Homo sapiens: one gene and its partner. The protein of the gene in region 1 purifies or fractionates together with the protein of each later gene. This does not show direct contact. Each region holds a gene or a part of one and is shown on either strand. Other genes may lie near its edges. The genes, in order: KRT84 and KATNIP.

Region 1 (2,987 bases):
TCTCAAGACTCCCCAGGAAACTGCTCAGGCAGCCCTGTGGAGTCTGGGACTACTCACATCAAGACAGTGGAGACAGTGGAATCTCAGAGATAACAAGAGATTTCCTACAAAGTTCAGGTTCAGCCTCAGATTCTTTAGGATTGGGTCACATGTGAGCAGAGGTATGAAAAGGTGACCTAAGTATCTTGGATTATCTAGATTTTCTTTGCCTCTAACTGAACATCAGGAAATGTCCAGCAGCCCCTGGGGGAATGTTGGCATTGTAATAGGGAAATGAGCAAAAGTTGCTGAGCTTCACTTCTACCCAGCGACCTTACCATCTGTGGGAAGTGGCTGCCTCTTTGCACCCATCTCCAGACACAGGTGGGAAGGTGAAACAGTGCCCAGGCGATGAGTATTTATCCTTCTCTGTTTTATACAGGATGTGGATGCAGCTTTCATGAACAAGTCTGATCTCGAGGCCAACGTGGATACCCTAACTCAGGAAATTGACTTTCTAAAAACGCTTTACATGGAGGTGAGGGTTCATCTTCTCTAGGGCACCCAAGGAGATCAATGCTTGGCCTGGACTCCCTGAATGCTTAGCCTGGGCTAGCATATTTTCAAACATTTGCTATCATATATCTTTCCTCTCACTCAAATCTGTATGCTATATATGCCAATATGTCTTCAAATGGGGAAGGGAAGGTGAGCAGGCTTTTCAGCAGCCTGATGCAAGTCAAACTCCTTGGATCTATGATCCAACTCCTTATTTACCAATTTAAAGACTGGGATCTAGAAATGTCACTTCCTGTGTACTGACAAGAAGACTGAAAAATTGATTTGCCAGGAGAGGTAAGAAAAAATGTGTTTGACCTAATTAGCCAAACCAGCTGTCTTTTGCTTCATAAACAATCTGTCCAGTCTGGTATAGGCCCAGCCAGAGCTGAATTGCTAGCTCTAAGTGAAGAGGCTGAGGAAAGCCTCCTCTGGAACTCTCTTTGCAGGCCAGTCCCAAGCCCCTCAGTTCTTCTATTAAGGGCTTGGGATATAGGAATTCCTAGACCACCATGTGCTAAAATATTGTCAGGTCTCAACGGTCTGTGACCAGCCCAGCCACTTTGTAGATAATCTAAGAAAAGTTTAAGCCCTAGAGTGGCTCCCACTTTCTTCCACCATGTTCTTAGATCCCCATGGTTTTAATACTTACTGAGCAAAGTAGTGTGTTAAAGGGATGTTTCTGAGTAGATCACAAGAGCTCTAAAGTCAGCCTGAGATGGTTCTCAGACATGTCTTTTTCTTTATCATCAATTTAGATGGTCTTGCTTTTTTATGAACCAATGAGTGATGCTCTCTGCCCCTGGCACCACTTCCTGGGCCCCCTGTGGCAGAGTCCCAGCTACTAAATGAGACTCTAAGCACATCTGTCTCCCCAATCCTCCAACACAGGAAATCCAGTTGCTGCAGTCGCACATCTCAGAGACGTCGGTCATTGTGAAGATGGACAACAGCCGTGACCTGAACCTTGATGGGATCATTGCTGAGGTCAAGGCCCAGTATGAGGAGGTGGCCAGGCGCAGCCGGGCTGATGCTGAGGCCTGGTACCAGACCAAGGTGGGCAGTGGAGGCTGGGGAAGGGATGTAGGCAGCTCTGGGAATGACTCATATATAACAGATCAGGCCCAGGGAGGTTTGAAGCCCCCAACTCAGTGGGGGCTGTGATCCTGACCTGACCTCCGAACCCTCAAAATACCCTCCTCTCTCCGCAGTATGAAGAGATGCAGGTGACAGCTGGCCAACACTGTGACAACCTGCGCAACATACGGAACGAGATCAACGAACTGACCCGCCTGATCCAGAGGCTTAAGGCAGAGATTGAGCACGCCAAGGCTCAGGTGGGCAAAGGAAAGGAGGGAAAGCCTCAGATGAGGGAGAACCAGGGCCTCAGGCTTTGGGAACCCCCAAGTCTAATGAGGTGAGGGAGACCATCAAGACCCAGAAACCAAGGAATGGAGGGATCAGTCCAGGAAGGCTTTCTGGAGGATAAAAATATGGAAGGGAAGGAGAGCTTCCCACATAGAAGTAAAGGGCTAGAGCAGACCCAGCAGGGAAGGTGGTACAGAAAGAATAAATTTACCCTCTAGATGCCATGACTCTGGGGCAGCTGAAATCAGCAGTGACAAAGTCAGTGGGGATGGAAACAACAGCAATGCCCTACCCCATAGTGACATCAAACTACAGGGTCTCCAGTGCCTGGGAAAGCAGCCACCATGGGGTCCATCCCTGCCTTGGCCCCAGGCTATGTTCCCACTAAGAGGGGCCGTGTTTCTAACCCAACCTGGGGATGCCCTGGCACTGCCGAAGCCTACCTGCAAACTGCCTTCCCTGCAGCGTGCCAAGTTGGAGGCTGCAGTGGCCGAGGCCGAGCAGCAGGGCGAGGCGACCCTCAGTGATGCCAAATGCAAGCTGGCAGATCTGGAGTGTGCCCTGCAGCAGGCCAAGCAGGACATGGCGCGGCAGCTGTGCGAGTACCAGGAGCTGATGAATGCCAAGCTGGGCCTGGACATCGAGATCGCCACCTACAGGCGCCTGCTGGAGGGCGAGGAGAGCCGGTGAGTACTCTCAGTCCAGCAGGAGAGTGAAGTCAGACTTAGGCATCTAGAAAGACTAAGGAAGAGAAGGGGACAGTGAAGAACTGCAGAAATACATAGTCTTTAAAGATGACAATACCTTCTCTGCAAACATTAGTTGCATTGCCCTTGTCAGGGAATCAGAAGAAGGCTCTAGACCTGTGATTCTCAAATGCAAGTCTAGATAAGCTGCACCAGAATCATTAGTAATTTTGCTAAAATTACTACTAATGATAAATTTCCTTAAATATTTTAATCTAATGGTTTTGGGATAGGGTCTAAGAACGTGTTTTTCAACGCTCCCCAGATGTGTGTATAACCAGGGGTGAGAACTACTGCTCCACAGATCTACTCAAACAAGAAAGCCCTTTTTATGGC
Region 2 (4,363 bases), on another chromosome or scaffold:
AAAATGAAATAGGTGGTGATATTAACAAATGTGATTTTTTAAATACCGTATAATGGCATCTGAAAGGTCAACGTTTAGATTTGCATAACTCACTGAACCAACATTTTCTAAACGACCAATGGCTGATGTTATAAAACCATATATGGGTAAAGCAGCCAATGAAAGGGCAAGATAGACCAATGGATTTTAATGTAACACAGTATAAAAGTTCACCTATAAGGCTTCAGATGACACACTGTGACTAACATTTAAGAAACTGCCACTTGTGGCCTGGCATGGTTCTTCATGCCTGTAATCCCAGCACTTTGGGAGGCCAAGGCGGGCGGATCACCTGAGGTTGGCAGTTTGAGACCAGCCTGACCAACATAGAGAAACCCCATCTCTACTAAAAGTACAAAATTAGCTGAGCGTGGTGGCACATGCCTGTAATCCCAGCTACTTGGGAGGCTGAGGCAGGAGAATCGCTTGAACCCGGGAGGCGGAGGTTGCGGTGAGCCGAGATCAGGCCATTGCACTCCAGCCTGGGCAACGACGGCAAAACTCCCGTCTCAAAAAAAAAAAAAAAAAAAAAAAACTGCCACTTGCAGGCCAGGCATGGTGGCTCACGTCTGTAATCCCAGCACTTTGGGAAATGGAGGCAGGCTGATCACCTGAGGTCAGGAGTTTGCGACCAGCTGGCCAACATGGGGAAACCCCATGTCTACTAAAAATAAAAAAAATTAGCTGGGCATGGTGGTTCACACCTGTGATCCCAGCTACTCGGGAGGTTGAGGCAGGAGAATCGCTTGAACCCAGCAGGCAGAGGTTGCAGTGAGCTGAGATCGTGCCACTGCACTCCAGCCTGGGCGACAGTGAGACTTTTTCTCAAAAAAAAAAAAAAAAAGAAAAAAGAAACTGGCATTTGCTAAATTTTGTATAGTATGAAAGGAGAGTGTCTACAGTTATCTGAAAAGGCAATTAAAATGTTTCTCTCTGCTCCAATTATATATTTGTATGAGGCCAAATTTTCTTCATACACACCAGCCAAAACAGCATAACAAAAAACAGTTTGAATCCTGAAGCAGAAATGAGAGTAGTTTTTTCTATTTCTATTGAATAAACTTGAAAAAACATAAAATAATGCTACTCTTCCTATTAATTTTTTGGAGGCAAATGTAATTGTTTTCCATTAAAAATATTATTTATGTTCAGAAGTAATGGGTTTATTGTTGTTGGAGTTTTTTTGAGACAGGGTCTAGCTATGTTGCCCAGGCTGGTCTTGAACTCCTGAGCTCAAGCAATCCACCCACTTCAGCCTCCCAAACTGCTGGGATCACAGGTGTGAGGCACTGCACATGGCCAATTATTATTATGATTATTATGAGCCACTGCACCTGGCCAATTATTATTATTATTATTGGGTTTTTTTGAGACAGAGTCTCGCCCTGTTGCCCAGGCTGGAGTGCAGTGGCAAGATCTCGGCTTCAAATGATTCTCCTGCCTCAGCCTTCCAAGTAGCTGGGATTACAGACATGTGTCACCACGTCCGGCTAAGTTTTAGTAGAGACAAGGTTTCACCATGTTGGCCAGGCTGGTCTCGAACTCCTGACCTCAAGTGATCCACCTGCCTTGGCCTTCCAGAGTGCTAGGATTACAGGCACGAGTCCATGCCCGGCCCAATTTTTATTATTTTTAAAGGAACTAATTAATGGACATCTTAAGATTTTCCCAGTTTAAATCTTCGATATGGTAAATATCATAAATATAAATAAACAAAGCTCTTTGAGGTAAGAGCATACAGGGGTCCCAAGGCTTAAAAGGTTTGAGGACTGATGTTCTATAGCAACATTACATTGACCTTTCCAGAAGGCAAAATGGTAAAGCACATTTTATAGTACCTCTAAAGTACAAAGGGAAAAGATATATTTTAAGCATATGACAGAATGTTCAATTAAAAACATTTTCTCCACACTACATTCAGTGAATATAAAAAGAATGTGGATTCCCCAGGAACAAATTCCCGAGAAGTGAGGGACAGTGCTGTAATTAGAAAAATGATCTGGACTCTAGCCCAGACCCTACCAGTCTCTCTAGACTTTAGTCTTCCCATCTGCAAAGTGAGATATCAGAATAGCCTATTTTCCATTTGCTTCCAATTGTCAATACCATGACTCTAATCAGGGATCCCTAAATGGGGGCCCACAAGCTGTCTCTGGCCTTCAGAGTGACTGGCCAACCCTGTTTTTGAGAAGTACCCCAAGAGGACAATCAGCTGGTGCTTGGTGAGCAGCTTTCCTTTCAGGTGAGGAATTGATTTTCAGTTACAGCCTCAATCCGGCTCACTAGACTCTCCTCTGCAGACATCTGCATTTACAACCTCTGGAATAAAGGGACCCTCAAAACCGGTCCAAATCTCAAGCTCCATAATTCAGCTCCAGAGACAGGGTGTCTGGGTTTCTCACTCACTCTGCTACATGCTGGTTGTTTGACTTTGGGCAAGTTCCTTAACACCTCTGAGCCTCAGTTTCATCATCTGTAAAATGGAACAACGCTGAACTCAAAAGGCTGGTATGAAGCTTAGCGAGGTGTTGCCCAAGAGTACTTACAGAGTTCTTGGTACTGGAAAGCACTTTGTTAAAGGGAGCTATTATTATTAACGCCAAGGCACAGAAAGGGAGTATTTCCTAAACTCCCTTCACCCCCCACACCAATTCCCTTTCCCAGCACCTGACGATTGCACTCCCACGATCAAGCTTGTTTTCATATCAACTCCCAAATCCGACAGTTCCACATCCCAACATTCACAAGACCCTCCTCAGACCTCTACTTCTCCTTCCCCACCCTACATCCCTTCACTGAGCTCCCGGCCAGTACCGGTTTCCTTCACGACCACAGCCGAGCAGAATGGTCACAGCACTGACCACTCCCCCAGGCTCTCCTCCGCGTTCCAGACCACTAAGCCTCCCTATCCCTCATTTCGGAGACCCCCTTGGGTCAGGAAGTGGTGGTCCAGGGGTTCATGGCCTAGGATTCTGCCCAAAGCGCGGTCGGGAGGGATGGGAGAATAACAGCCCGACCTCCCGGAGGGGCCCACAGACACTCACCGTCCATCCCTAGAGGCGGCGGTTCCGGGAGCTCGAACCGGAAGCGGCCTCTACACTGTTTGCAGTTCCCCTGGTTACTGCGGGGCCCCGGACCAATGACGGTGGAGCTCCACTTACTGAGCCCGCCCCCGGGGAGTGACGTCATGCCGGCGCGCTGGAACTCCTCCTCCGAACCCTGGGTCTGACCCACCTCCCCGGGCCCCGGATCGTTGTGCGCAGGCGCGATGGACCAAGGCCCTTGGCGGTGCGTTGCGCATGCGCCCCGGGCGCCGCCGACTGAAGTAGCAATGGACGCGCTGGAGTCGTTGTTGGACGAAGTCGCTCTGGAGGGGCTCGATGGCCTGTGTCTGCCAGCGCTGTGGAGCCGGCTGGAGACGCGAGTGCCGCCCTTCCCGCTGCCTTTGGAACCCTGCACGCAGGAGTTTCTCTGGCGGGCCCTCGCCACGCACCCGGGCATCAGCTTCTATGAGGAGCCTCGGGAGCGACCCGACCTACAGCTCCAGGACCGGTCAGCGGGCGGCCTGGCCTGGCGGGCGGGCGGGCGGGCGCAGGGCCCGGGGGCTGATGGAGCTGGGGGCAGGGCGGGGGAATGGAGTGGGGCTGTGCAAGTACCGGAGGCCTGTTGATTGAGTTGGGGCACGGCGGTAAGGCTAATCTGGGGTCCCTCAGGCCTGGCAGGGCCCTGGAGTCCGATGGAGTTGGCGGGGGGAGGGGGAGAATCTAGTGATGTCCCGTTTTGTCCCTGTGTGTGTTTTGGGGTAATGGCGAACAGGATTGGGGATATTCTTCAGGCTTAAAAGAATGTTTCCTTTACATTGGAGGATAGGATTAGAGCAGGAAAGACACTTTAGAGCCAGACTGGAGACTCCTGAGATCAACAGACCCTCATGGTATATTCATTCGGTGCAGATAGCCTAGGGCAACTCGAGATCTGCGTATCAGGACAATTAGCGATAATGCTAAAAGCTGACATTTATCAGGGACTTCATGGGTGAGGTGCTGTTCTTTTTTTTCTTTTTTGAGATAGAGTCTCTCTCTGTGGCCCAGGCTGGAGTGCAGTGGCGCGATCTTGGCTCACTGCAACCTCCGTCCGCCTCCCAGGTTCAAGCGATTCTCGTGCCTCAGCCTCCTGAGTAACTGGGATTACAGGCATGTTCCACCACGCCCGGCTAATTTTTGCATTTTTAGTAGGTATGGGGTGTCATCATGTTGGCCAGGCTGGTCGCGAACTCCTGACCTCAGACAATCCGCACCTCTCGGCCTCCCAAAGTGCTGTGATT

What was found.
Region 2: the proteins of KRT84 (region 1) and KATNIP purify together in Homo sapiens (tandem affinity purification; one large-scale study listed by IntAct). This does not show direct contact.

What each region holds. Positions count from the first base shown.
Region 1 is NC_000012.12:52,379,967-52,382,953, reverse strand, and holds part of KRT84 (keratin, type II cuticular Hb4), read left to right. Parts: intron 1-421; coding exon 422-517; intron 518-1,428; coding exon 1,429-1,593; intron 1,594-1,748; coding exon 1,749-1,874; intron 1,875-2,370; coding exon 2,371-2,591; intron 2,592-2,987.
Region 2 is NC_000016.10:27,548,898-27,553,260, reverse strand, and holds the start of KATNIP (katanin-interacting protein), read right to left. Parts: upstream 3,118-4,363; 5' UTR 3,091-3,117; coding exon 3,084-3,090; intron 1-3,083. Other genes in the region: GTF3C1 (general transcription factor 3C polypeptide 1), read left to right, coding at 3,371-3,591. UniProt on the Homo sapiens protein: May influence the stability of microtubules (MT), possibly through interaction with the MT-severing katanin complex.